Homo sapiens: one gene and its partner. The protein of the gene in region 2 interacts with the protein of the main gene of each other region in a pairwise test. Each region holds a gene or a part of one and is shown on either strand. Other genes may lie near its edges.

What was found. Proteins that work in one complex are often made in the same cells at the same time.
Region 1: the proteins of RBPMS2 (region 2) and RBM42 interact in binary tests that used the Homo sapiens proteins (3 or more experiments, as listed by UniProt).

The regions. Positions count from the first base shown.
Region 1 is NC_000019.10:35,624,740-35,632,061, forward strand, and holds the start of RBM42 (RNA-binding protein 42), read left to right. Parts: upstream 1-4,296; 5' UTR 4,297-4,414; coding exon 4,415-4,542; intron 4,543-4,780; coding exon 4,781-4,934; intron 4,935-6,400; coding exon 6,401-6,485; intron 6,486-6,591; coding exon 6,592-6,666; intron 6,667-7,322. UniProt on the Homo sapiens protein: Binds (via the RRM domain) to the 3'-untranslated region (UTR) of CDKN1A mRNA.
Region 2 is NC_000015.10:64,739,374-64,744,598, reverse strand, and holds the end of RBPMS2 (RNA-binding protein with multiple splicing 2), read left to right. Parts: intron 1-3,356; coding exon 3,357-3,419; 3' UTR 3,420-3,426; intron 3,427-3,598; 3' UTR 3,599-4,708; downstream 4,709-5,225.

The DNA of each region.
Region 1 (7,322 bases), on a different chromosome or scaffold from region 2:
CCCCTGTCTCAGTAAATTTTTTTTCCCAAACTAAGTGAACATTAGATTTAATTTGGCTGGCCCCAGAAGAAAAACATGCACAGATGGTAGTTTTACTGGTGTTGCAGTAAGTTTTCAAATTTGGAAGTTTGGCAGCTTTATGATCTTGAACCTTGCTGTCCATCTCTCACACAACTCCTCTCTTGGCCTCCAGAGTCCCTTTACTCTCCCAGCTTTCCTCCTGCCCCTGGCTGCTGTTTCCCAGCCTTTCCACATTGGCTTTCCCATGTAGTCCTTAGTGTGTCTGCTCCTCCTCTCTCTCCTCATCACAGTTCCCAGCCCCCACCTTCAACTGAACTCAACAAAATCTTCAACTTCATACAGTAGTCACATTGTTAGTAATAACACTGGCATTTTTATTTTGATAAAATAGACCGTTTAAATTTTTGAGATTCTACCTTATATTTTTTGAATTATATACTAAAGCAAATAAGTAGTGATGTAATGTCATTGGGGACCAAGATTTTTAGTGTAAATGAAAAAAGATAACAAATATAAACTCAAGTAAACACCCTGTAGTCTTTCACATGAATTGGAAATATCAGAATAAAGTCATGATTTTTCTCTTTCTAAAAAATATGTATTTCCCTAGTTAAGTCCCCTGAAAAGGTCTAAATATAATGACACCCCAGTAACACTGAGCAGCACTAGTATACAGACTGTGGTCTCTATAAGTGCCATTTCTGACTAAGAACTAGGGACTTTTGTGAAAACAGCTGATTCCAGGTCTGGGGCAAGAAATGTGCAAAATGTGTCCAGGATATTTTGTGCCAGGAAGCAAAGAGTCCTCCAAGACTACTGTGGCCAAGTCAAAGGAACTCAGGAGCCAGTCTGAAGGGCTGTCACTCACCAAAGGTGGGACATGTTGAGCAGCAAAAAGAACCACAGTGGTTTGAAGCACATCAAATATGCCTGAATGTGTAAGTTCATGTTGATACTCATATACCTCATTGAAATCACCTTTGAAGAGTACTAGGAACCCACTCATTATTTTGAAAAATTTTTTATATATAAAATAATCCAGCATGTTCTCTATTTTTCTTATATGTGAACAAGTAACCAACTTTTTTTTTTTTTTTTTTTTGAGACAGGGTCTTGTGCTGTCACCCAGGCTAGAGTGCAATGGTGAGATTTTGGCTCACTGCAACCTCCGCCTCCTGGGTTCAAGTGATTCTCGTGCTTCAGCCTCCTGAGTAGCTGGGATTACAGGTGCGCGCCACCATGCCAGGCTAATTTTTGTATTTTTATTAGAGGCGGGGTTTTGCCATGTTGGCCAGGCTGGTCTCAAACTTCTGACTTCAGGTAATCTGCCCGCCTCAGCCTCCCAAAGTGCTGGGATTATAGGTGTGAGCCACTGTGCCCAGCCTAAGTAACCAAATTTCTGATGAAGAGGTTATTTATGGAAGAATCACAACTAATAACTTCAGAGAAAATACTAGAATTCAAAAACCACTATTTGCTATTAATTAATCTAGTGATGGATACAGGTAATGATGATCAAGGGCTACTAAAACTATTAGGGGAAAGGTTGATTGGGCTTCTTAAAATAGGTAGACCAGGATGACACCACTGATCAATCCTGATGCCAAAGGAAGGCAACCAGACATCTTGTGCTTCTGATGGGATCCAATAGGATACAAGGGATATGATACCATACAATATTATCTATGAAGTGTGCTTTTACCAAATTAAACCTAAATCTCATCTAGCCTTAGCTCTCACTACAAGCATATGGGAAAGGGGCAGAAGGCAGTCAGAAACAAGTGAAACAAAAAGGATGTAATTAGTTAAATTCAAAATGTGTGACACCCTATAGGATAAATGATCCAGTTTCTTCAATAAAGAGAAGGCAAAAGGGGGAATGGAGAAAGAAAGAAGAAAGGGAGGGAGGGAAGAAGGGAGGAAGGAAGGAAAGAAAGAAAGATGGCAGGCAGGCAGGTATTCATTTGTACTGATTCATACTGCAGCTTCAAGAAACCAAGGCAGCCAATAAAATTAAATTTTCTTTTTTTTTTTTTTGACACGGAGTCTCGCACTGTCACTGGAGTGCAGTGGCACAATCTTGGCTCACTGCAACCTCCGCCTCCCGGGTTCAAGCGATTCTCCTGCCTCAGCCTCCCAAGTAGCTCGGATTACAGGCGCTCGCCACCACGCCCAGCTAATGTTTGTATTTTTAGTAGAGACGGGGTTTCACCACGTTAGCCAGGCTGGTCTTGAACTCCTGACCTCGTGATTCACCCGCCTTGGCCTCCCAAAGTGCTGGGATTACAGGTGTGAGCCACCTCGCCTGGCCTCTAAGTTTTTCTTGTTGGTAAACATCTGAGCAAGCAAAAATTTAAGTTTTGACAGGAAAAAAAAAAGACAATCAAATGCAATATTTGGACCTTGTTTTGATCCTGATTCTACTATCGTATAAAGACATTTTTGAGACAAGGAAAACTGAACACGGTCTGGGTGTTAGATGATACTAAGAAATTAATTTGATGGTATTCATAATGGCATAGTTAATGGTATTTTTTTTTTCTTGACACTGAGTTTCACTCTATCGCCCAGGCTGGAGTGCAGTGACGCGATCTCGGCTCACTGCAACCTCTGTCTCCCGGGTTCAAACAATTCTCCTGCCTCAGCCTCCCGAGTAGCTGGAACCACAGGCGCACGCCACCACGGCCGGCTAATTTTCGTATTTTTAGTAGAGACAGGGTTTCACCATGTTGGCCAGGCGGGTTTCAAACCCCTGACCTCAGGTGATCCGCCCACCTCGACCTCCCAGAGTGCTGGGATTACAGGTGTGAGCCACTGAGCCCAGCGTTAATGGTATTTTTTAAAAATAGTTCTTATCGGCCGGGCCGAGATCGCGCCACTGCACTCCAGCCTGGGCGACAGAGCGAGACTCCGTCTCAAAAAAAAAAAAATAGTTCTTATCTGTTAAGGAGACATAATGGCGCATTTATGACTGAGTTGATGTCTGGAATTTGCTTTAACATACTCCAGCAAAAAAATATAAAAATAAGAAAAGTATAAGGCCATGCGCAGTGGCTCATGCCTGTAATCCCAGCACTCTGGGAGGCCGAGGCGAGTGGATCACTTGAGATCAGAAGTTTGCTACCAGCCTGGCCAACATGGTGAAACCCCGCCTCTACTAAAAATACAAAAATTAGCCGGGTGTGGTAGTACACACCTGTAATCCCAGCTACTAGGGAAGCTGAGGCAGGAGAATCCCTTGAGTCCAGGAGGTGGAGGTTGCAGTGAGCCGAGGTCACACTACTGCAATCCAGCCTGGGCGACAGAGCGAGACTCCGTCTCAAAAAAAAAAAAAAAAAAAAGAAGAAGGTACTTTGTAACATTCTCCCCGCCCTTGAGAATGTACTTTATAAGCCTATCCCAAACCTGTAAGAACTAATGATAATCCCACCACCCTTTGCTGACTCCTTTTTCGGACTCAGCCCGCCTGCACCCAGGTGAAATAAACAGCCTTGTTGCTCACACAAAGCCTGCTTGGTGGTCTCTTCACACGGACGCGCGTGACAAAGAAGTATAGATCAAGTGAAATCCAGAAGTGTTGAATATTGGTAGCGTTTGAGATGTACTTAAGAGTGCGTTATACTATTCCCCTTAATGTGCATGTTTGAAAATACTCAGAATAAAACACTTGTGAGGGCTACGGGAAAAAAAAAAGGGTCAGCTGTGGCCCAAGAAAGGACAGGGACCAAGCCCACGGACGTGCTCCTCTGAGTTGCACTAGTCTCTGGGCCTTGGCTCCCACCCTGAACAGCTCTCATCTTTAAATGTCTTCAGCTGTCCTCCTCCAGGAAGCCGGGTCAGGCGCTTCCTCCCGGGCGTCTCCGGTCTTCCTGGAAACCACAGGTCGGGTGTCAACCTACTCCAGGATAGGGGCCCCGAGGGGCCAGCCAGGCCTCCCAGCCTTGCCCAACCCTGGGGTTGACACGGACTTTAGCGTCTTTTTAAACTTCCGGCGCGGGCTCTGCGGTGGCACAGGAGGGTCCTCCAAACTTTCCTGCGATCTCAAAGGTCCAGATTCCACATTGGGGATGGGCCCAACTGACTTTGCTTCGCTCTCATTAGCCGGTGGTCCTCCAGGAAAGCGGGGCCGCCTCTCCGCTGTGCTCTCATAGGCCCAGGTTCTTGCGTTCGTGTGTCCTTCTCTCACTCTGATTGGCCTATATTCCCCCTGAGGGTGTGGCCAAATCTCATTGGCTCTCGCGCCCGAATGTATGACGTCATGCGCCAGCGCCCGTCGCTTTTGCTGGACGTCATCCTCGGGAGCCCACCCGGACGAAGGGGGAGAGTAGACAGCAGAACCAGCGGCGGCGGCTAAGCAGAGACTGTAGTAGCGGCGACAGCGACGACGGCAGCGATGGCTGGGGCGGGGCCAGCCCCGGGACTCCCGGGTGCAGGAGGACCCGTGGTCCCGGGTCCTGGCGCTGGCATCCCGGGCAAAAGCGGCGAGGAACGCTTGAAGGAAATGGAGGCGGAGATGGCCCTGTAAGGCCCGCGACAGAGAGTGATAAAAGTCGTCCCAGAGCCAGAGCCACCGAATCTCGGAGCCTCCAGGCCTCGATAGGCCGGAGATACGGCTCTAACATGGGGAAGTGGGACCTTCGGGATTGTGGGGGCGGGGATAGGGGAGAGGTTGGCAGGGGTGAGGGTCCCCTCGCGATATACCCACAGTTCCAAAATTGGTACGAGGTCCTGAGCGCTGATGTCTGTTCTACTCCTCCAGGTTTGAGCAGGAAGTTCTGGGGGCTCCAGTACCTGGAATCCCAACTGCTGTGCCTGCGGTGCCCACTGTCCCCACGGTCCCCACAGTAGAAGCGATGCAGGTCCCAGCGGCTCCTGTGATCCGCCCAATTATCGCGACCAACACATACCAGCAGGTACGGCTGAGCTAAGGCATGTAAGTCAGGGAACACAATGCCTCGAACAGAGTAGGTGTTTGTGTACAGAGAGCTGTTGACGTTTTGGCTTGTTGACTAATTAGCATGACAAATATTTTATATGCCAGGCACTGAGAACACAGTAATGACTGAGAGAGACATTTCTGCCCTGTGGGAGCTTATATTCTAGAACATGTTGTCCAGTAGAGCTTTCTGCAATGACGAGACTGTTCTGATATATTTAAAATTTATATTTAATAGTTCGTTATTCTCATTAGTCACATTTCAAGTGCTCAGTAGCCAACTATATATGACTAGTAGAGAAAGAGAGAGAAATTATTAAGATGAAAATAGGCTGGGCGCTGGGCGTGGTGGCTCACACCTGTAATCCCAGCACTTTGGGAGACCAAGGCGGGCAGATCACGAGGTCAAGAGATCGAGTCCATCCTGGCCAACATGGTGAAACCCCATCTCTACTAAAATTACAAAAATTAGCTGGGTGTGGTGGCACGTGCCTGTAGTCCCAGCTACTTGGGAGGCTGAGGCAGGAGAATCGCTTGAACCCAGGAAGCGGAGGTTGCAGTGAGCTGAGATTGCGCCACTGCACTGGAGCCTGGTGACAGAGCGAGACTCCGTCTCAAAAAAAAAAAAAAAGCCCTGAGGCAGGTGCATACCTGTTGTGTTGTTGTGTTCAAGGAACAGCAAGGAGACCAGTGACAGTGGAGTGAGCAAAGAGGAAAGTGGGAGGAGATAAGGACAGAGAGGTGAGGCCAAATCTTGTAGAGCCTTATGGCCATTTTAAGAACCCTGGTGGCCAGGCACGGTTGCTCACGCCTGTAATCCCAGCACTTTGGGAAGCCAAGGCGGGTAGATCACAAGGTCAGGAGTTCAAGACCAACCTGGCCAACATGGTGCAACCCCGTCTCTATTAAAAATACAAAAATTAGGCGGGCGTGTCGGCGGGCGCCTATAATCCCAGCTACTCCGGAGGCTGAGGCAGGAATATCACTTGAACCCAGGAGGCGGAGGTTGCAGTGAGCCAAGCTCGTGCCACTGCACTCCAGCCTGGACAATAGAGCGAGACTCCGTCTCAAAAAAAAGACTGTAAGGGACAAGGGCAGAAGCCAGGAGATGGAGGAAGGGGCTAGTACAGTAATCTAGACAGGAGTTAATGGTGGCTTGGATGGAGGTTGTGCATGGGAGATGGGGAGGACAGGTTGGACACAGTTTCAGTGGGTGCTAAGTGCTGTGGGGAAGATGAAATAAGGTGGTGAGAGAAGTTGCTGCTCAGAGAGCCCTAGTGTGATCCAAAAAGCCTCCCCGAGAAGTGGCATTTTAGCTAAGACCTGAGATAGCCAGCCACATACAGAGCACAAAGCATGAAGCTCTTGGTCTCTTGGGGTGAGCTGGCCGCAGCAGATGGGAATGCTGAGTCAGGCCCCTCACCCTGACCTCTTCCTCGACAGGTCCAGCAGACTCTGGAGGCCCGAGCAGCTGCTGCAGCCACAGTAGTTCCTCCCATGGTGGGTGGCCCTCCTTTTGTAGGCCCTGGTAAGTAAAGAGTAGCAAGGTGAGGGGGTTGGGCAATCAGGCAGGGTGGTAAAAAGGTGTGCACAGGACTCTCCTCCCACCATCCTTGCCTCTCCCCTCCCAACAGTTGGCTTTGGCCCTGGTGATCGGAGTCACCTGGACAGCCCAGAGGCTCGAGAAGCCATGTTCCTGCGGCGGGCAGGTGAGTCTGGGGCCAGGGACCCCCACATTTAATCAGGCACTCTTGTTTACATGACTTCAGCCTCTTGCCTAAATCCTTGCTCTAAATTACCCTTTGCCTTTGATCCCAACTTGATGTTGTCATCCTAAAGCACGAACCTGATCATGTCCTTTCTGATGATGTCAATTTTGTTTTAACCTGATCATTGCAAACCAACCCTCCTGCTGTCAGTCCTAATTCCCAGTTACCACAGCACTTAACACCTCATAACAAGCTATATAATTTCTTATTTACTATGGCTATCATCTTTTGCATCCTCTAAAATAAAAGCTCCATGAGGGGCAGAAGTCTCAGTATCTGCCACATAGGAAGCATTATGTACTGTCTGTTGATGGGATGAACGGACTGTTGAGACAAGCGCCAGGCTTTTCCCCTGGCAGTCACAACCCTACATGACCTTGCTTCTTGCAGGGAGAGATCCCCAGCAGCCCGAACATTTCTGGGATGTGCCAGCAGTGCTTTTGTTAAGGTCCCTTCTCTCCCTGCTCACTGTCACCCAGCTGTAATCTTCCAGCCATCCTTCCCCCCCAGGCCATTTTCTACATTCCACCTTTTGTTCTTCAGGTAACCTTTACTCACACTGTCAATTTGTAGGACATTACTTCCTTATATGTATG
Region 2 (5,225 bases):
TCTTCTGTTTTGTTTTCTTTCTTTCTTTTTTTTTTTTTTTGAGACAGAGTTTCACTCTTGTTGCCCAGGCTGGAGTGCAATGGTGTGATCTTAGCTCACCTCAACCTCCGCCTCCCAGGTTCAAGTGATTCTTCTGCCTCAGCCTCCCTAGTAGCTGGGATTACAGGCATGTACCACCACGCCCAGCTGATTTTGTATTTTTAGTAGAGATGGGGTTTCTCCGTGTTGGTCAGGCTGGTCTCGAACTCTCGACCTCAGGTGATCCGTCCGCCTCGGCCTCCCAAAGTGCTGGGATTACAGGCATGAGCCACCGCGCCCAGCCATTGTTTTGTTTTCTTTATGATAAATTCCTAGAACTATGACACGGTGAAAGTGTAGACTTACCAGTCTGGGTTAAATGTTTTAATTTCGGATAAGTGAGGCTTCCATATCTTTGGTTGTTTATATCTTTTTTTTTTCCTTTCTCTTTTTTTAGTTATTTTTATTTTTTTGAGACAGAGTCTCACTCCGTTGCCCAGGCTAGAGTGCAGTGGCATGACCTTTGCTCTTTGCAACCTCTGCCTCCTGGGCTCAAGCACGATCCTCCTGCCTCAGCCTCCCAAATTGCTGGGATTACAGGTGTGTGCTACCACGCCCAGCTAATTTTTGTATTTTTTTGCAGAGACGGGGTTTCGTAATGGTGGCCATGCTGGTCTCAAACTTCTGGGCTCAAGAGATCCGCCCACCTCTGCCTCCTAGAGTGCTGGGATTACAGGCGTGAGCTGTCACACCTGGCCTTATATTTATTCTTATGTAGGTTCATCCCGTTGCTTGCTTTCTGGTGTATCTTCTCAACTGGTCAGTCCCAGGATCTGAGAGACGGCTGAGTTTGCATCCTCCGCTCTTTGTTTTGAAGCAGCCCTCTCGGAACCTGGTCACTATAGCCTGTGGGGGGTACTCTCAGGAGCCCCCCCCCCCCTGGGCACAACTGGAGGCCCTGAAAGGACACTGCGGGTGCCCTGTCTTGCTGGCCTGGCCCCCTGGGGGTCTCCTGTAGCTGGAGCAGAAAGAAGAGCTCTAGGAAGGGATTGTGTGGCTTCTAGAGGACCCAGGCCACTGGCCTATGCCAGGCACCCGGAGGAAGCGGAAAAGCAGCCCTTCTAAATGCATTCCGTCTGCTTCAGTGGCACAGCTGTCCCAAGCCCAAATATGGGAGCTTTCCTCCACTTTCTCCCCAAGGAGTCCCTCAGGCTGGAGGGAAAGTCGCTGCTTGGGAAGCAGGAATCCCAGCACCTTGTAGCGAGAGTGTAGGGCAGGATCCAGCAGATATGCTGAGGGCGGCCTTAGGCAGTCATTCAAGGCCTTAGCTTCCCAGTGGTGAAAGAGGTTGGGTTGCAGGCCTCCTGAGCTCCTTCCATTCTGTCGTCCATGTTCTCCCCTTGTCCGGCCCTGCGGGACACCCAGCCCGTCCGGGATTTCCTTGCTGTGGGGCTGCCGGAGGCTACATGAAGGGCAGTGGTCAGGGCCCACTAAGGGGCTCCCTGAGCTGGTGCCAGCCGCCGGCTTCTCTGATAGCAGCATTGCTCGTTTCCTCGTGTGTCCCTCTCTTGTGGAATAAGTGCTAGTGTCCAGCCAGGTTTCTAACTTCCCGCTGAGCTCCTGGGATGTGGTGGCTGGAATTCTGCAGTGTACAAAACAGCACCTAGAATTTGGCGGGGATAGGAACGGGTTCTTAGGAAGCTTCCATCAGCCCCCAGACGGCCTGGCATGGCTTACCCAGGAAGCAGGAGTTCCCAGCAGCCAAGTGGGTAACTGGGTCTGCCTGCTCCAACCTCAAGGGAGCTGTCTGCAGGCCCAGCTTCTACTCCTTTCCTGCCACACGCTCATGTGCTGCCCCTTCCCTTCCTGAGGGGACTCCAGCTCCCCTCCCTGGATGCTCATCCCCCAACCGCAACTCAAGGTCCTGTGTTGTCCCGCTCCCCCCGCCACACCCCTTTCCCTGTCCTGGGTCAGGCTGGGACAGACATGCTTCACCGTGCATAACTGGGGCAGGCGGCCTTCCCTGCGGTCTTGGCAGTCAGCATACTTGCCTTCCAGATGACTGGCCCACAGGGAGGAGGGAACGTGCCATTTTCTTGACCAGTCTCTGGGAACCCAGCTTTGGGGCTACTGCTCTGTGGGGCCTTCTGGCAAGTGCCAGGGTTTAGGCAACTTCCAGGCACTGGTGAGGATGATCTCAGATAGCTGCCGCCCACCTGACGTTATAGACCTCTGGACTTAGAGGCTTGTGATGGAGGGCATGGCACAGCAGGGGTGGGAAGGTCAAAACGGGAGCCTCAGCTGGGTCTCATCCATGGCTTCTCAGAAGAATCAGGACTGATGTTGGAGAGTCCTACCCCTTGGGGTCTACACGGACTTTGGGTTTTGTTTTGTTTTTTGTTTTTGTTTTTGTTGGAGACGGAGTTTTGTTCTTGTTGCCCAGGCGGGAGTGCAATGGCGCGATCTCAACTCACTGCAACCTCCGCCTCCCGGGTTCGAGCGATTCTCCTTGCCTCAGCCTCCCGAGTAGCTGGGATTACAGGCATGCACCACTACGCCCGGCTAATTTGTATTTTTAGTAGAGATGGGGTTTCTCCATATTGGTCAGGCTGGTCTCGAACTCTGAACCTCAGGTGGTCCGCCCACCTCGGCCTCCGAAAGTGCTGGGATTACAGGCGTGAGCCGCTGCGCCCGGCCTTGTTTGGTTTTAATAGAGACATTATCTCCCTATGTTGCCCAGGCTGGTCTTGAACTCCTGAGCCCATGTGATCCTCCCACCTCAGCTTCCCAAAGTGTTGGGATTACAGGTGTGTGCCACTGCACCCGGCCTTACTGTATCTTTACATCCTGTCTTACCTGATCCTCACAACCACATATGACTTCGTCATTTCTGTCCTATAGCTAGATGAGAACACTGAGACCCAAAGAAGTCAAACAAAAATGTATGAGGCTCATTCTTTTCCTCCTCCTCCACAGAATTAGGAATTCCGTGCTGTGTCAGTAAAGGGGAAGGGCGGGTTGCTGGCACCACTGCCCCCAGCTGCCAGGGCTCCCACCAGTATAGTGGCCCATTTGGATTGGGCTGATTGGGGTATGAGACGCCTGCGTGACTTTCCTTCGCTGGAACCTGTGTCCTGCAGAGGAGGCACATCAGGCAGTGCACTCCCACTTGCCGGATAGAGAAACTGATGCTTAAAGGTGAGTAACTGGCCCAAAATGTGCCAGCCAATCAGTGACAGAACCAGGACTCCAGCGGGGACACCGATGGCCATGGTTACCTGGCTTCCTGTTGAGGGAAGGGATGCACAGCTGGCTCCTGACGTTGGCTTCTCTTGCAGGTGCGCTGGTACCCTTCCTCTGACACCACCCAGCAAGGATGGAAGTACCGTCAGTTCTGTTAGTTTTTCAGTAAGTGTTGGCCCCAGAGGCCCAGGACAAGTGTCCTAGACTCCGGCTCCCTGAAGGGCCGTAGTTCCTCCCTCTGCCCCGGGTCTCAAGAGCTTAGCCGAGCCCAGAGCAGGCCTGGCTTTAGCTCTAGTCCCACGCCTCTGCTCACGGCCGCCTCTCTCCCTCCCTCCAGGTCTGGTCACCGGGGAGGTGGTTCTGGTAATCTGTGGTGGTGCCGGGACAGGCGCCCCGAGTTCCCACTGCCCCCGGGCGGCCTGCACAGAGCTGCTGCCCTCCAGAGACTGTGAATCCCAAGCCTGACTCAGTGGACTGCTTCCTGTTCCCCTCCCTCCTCTTCCTCACCTTGTTCTGCACCCTCAAGCCTTTCTCCAATGCCTCCCAGGAGGATTTGGGGACTTTCTCCCTGGGGCGCCCAGATCCAGCTCGGAGGCCTCACTGGGACCTGGCAAGGCCTGACCTCCCGCCCAAACTTGCTTCTGTAGCTCCCCCTCGAGGAAGTGAGGTGTTTAATTTTGCATGTTTTCTGGCATGAATTAAGACACTTATACTTGTATATATGAGTGTACAGTTTGTTCTCACACTGTCACCATAGCGACAGGTCCTGGCTCCCAGTGGTTCATCCTGCCTGCCCCTCTCTCCTCGCCCCGCCCCTGCACCCACCCCGCTTCAGGGAGGCCCAAGTTCCGTGGCCCCACACGCTTCCAGGCTCAGCTCCCACCTCCACCCAACAGATAGATGGGGTTTGCTTTTTCATTTCACATGGGGCTCCTCCGCTCCTGCCTTCTCGGATGGGCCAACAGTCGTAAGAAAGCCCTCTCTGCCCGTTCTGTTCACCTCTCCACAGCGCACCCCGCCCGCCGCTGCTCCTCATTCTTTCCAAACCTCGAAACCAACCAAAACGTGAGAAGTATTTTTGTACCCTGTGTAACAAAATATTTATGCATCATAAAGGATTTTTCATGTGCGTACCATTAATTATTAAAGCGACCTCGTTCGCCCTGTCAGATAAGTTTAATGTTTAGTTTGAGGCATGAAGAAGAAAAGGGTTTCCATTCTTCAGCAGTACGCCTTTGTGTCTGGCATTTGTTTAAGAAAATGAAATGAAGGAAACACTGTGCAATGTTTTTTGTTTTGAGCATATCAGTGCTTTACTGTCAGCCGCAGCTGTGACCGTCTGGCCATTTCAGACTTGGGAGATGAGGCGGCTGTTGTCATTGCTGATCCTGTGAGAATGTGAAACTGGATAATATATGAAATGCAAAATAAAACAAAACCAAAATGACTGCTCTCGGCCTTTGCTTCCCCCTTCCGTGGACGCAGACTGCCATTGGGAAGGCAGAGCCAGAGAGATGTGGAGTCGGGGGAAGGAAGTGAAGTGGGCCTGGCCCGCTGGCAGCTGGCTTGTGACTGTAAAGGTGGTGGGGGAGGACCTTGGAGCTCACTTAGCCTCTCCTGCCTCCCTGGTTTGTAAGCTGGGGAAACAAAGTCCAGGGTAAGTGACTTGCCTAAGGGCCTGGCAGTTGTGGCTTTACTTCCTCAGTTTCCAGGCTGTCAGGGTAGGGAGAGACTCCCTACACCAAGAGCAGGCCCCCAGGTGGGACCTTCCTGGGGGAAGGCGGTGATATACTCGGCTTAACCATTTACGGCCTGTGGTCTTTTTGAGTCTCGCTCTGGTAAAAGAGGACTGAGGTTTGGGCTGTTGGGCTCTGCCAGGTGGTGTCTGTCCTTGGCGTGCCTCTTGTGAGGCTGTGCTGGAGGGAAGGCTAGGACCTGGAATCTTGCCCAGAAGGGGTTAACCT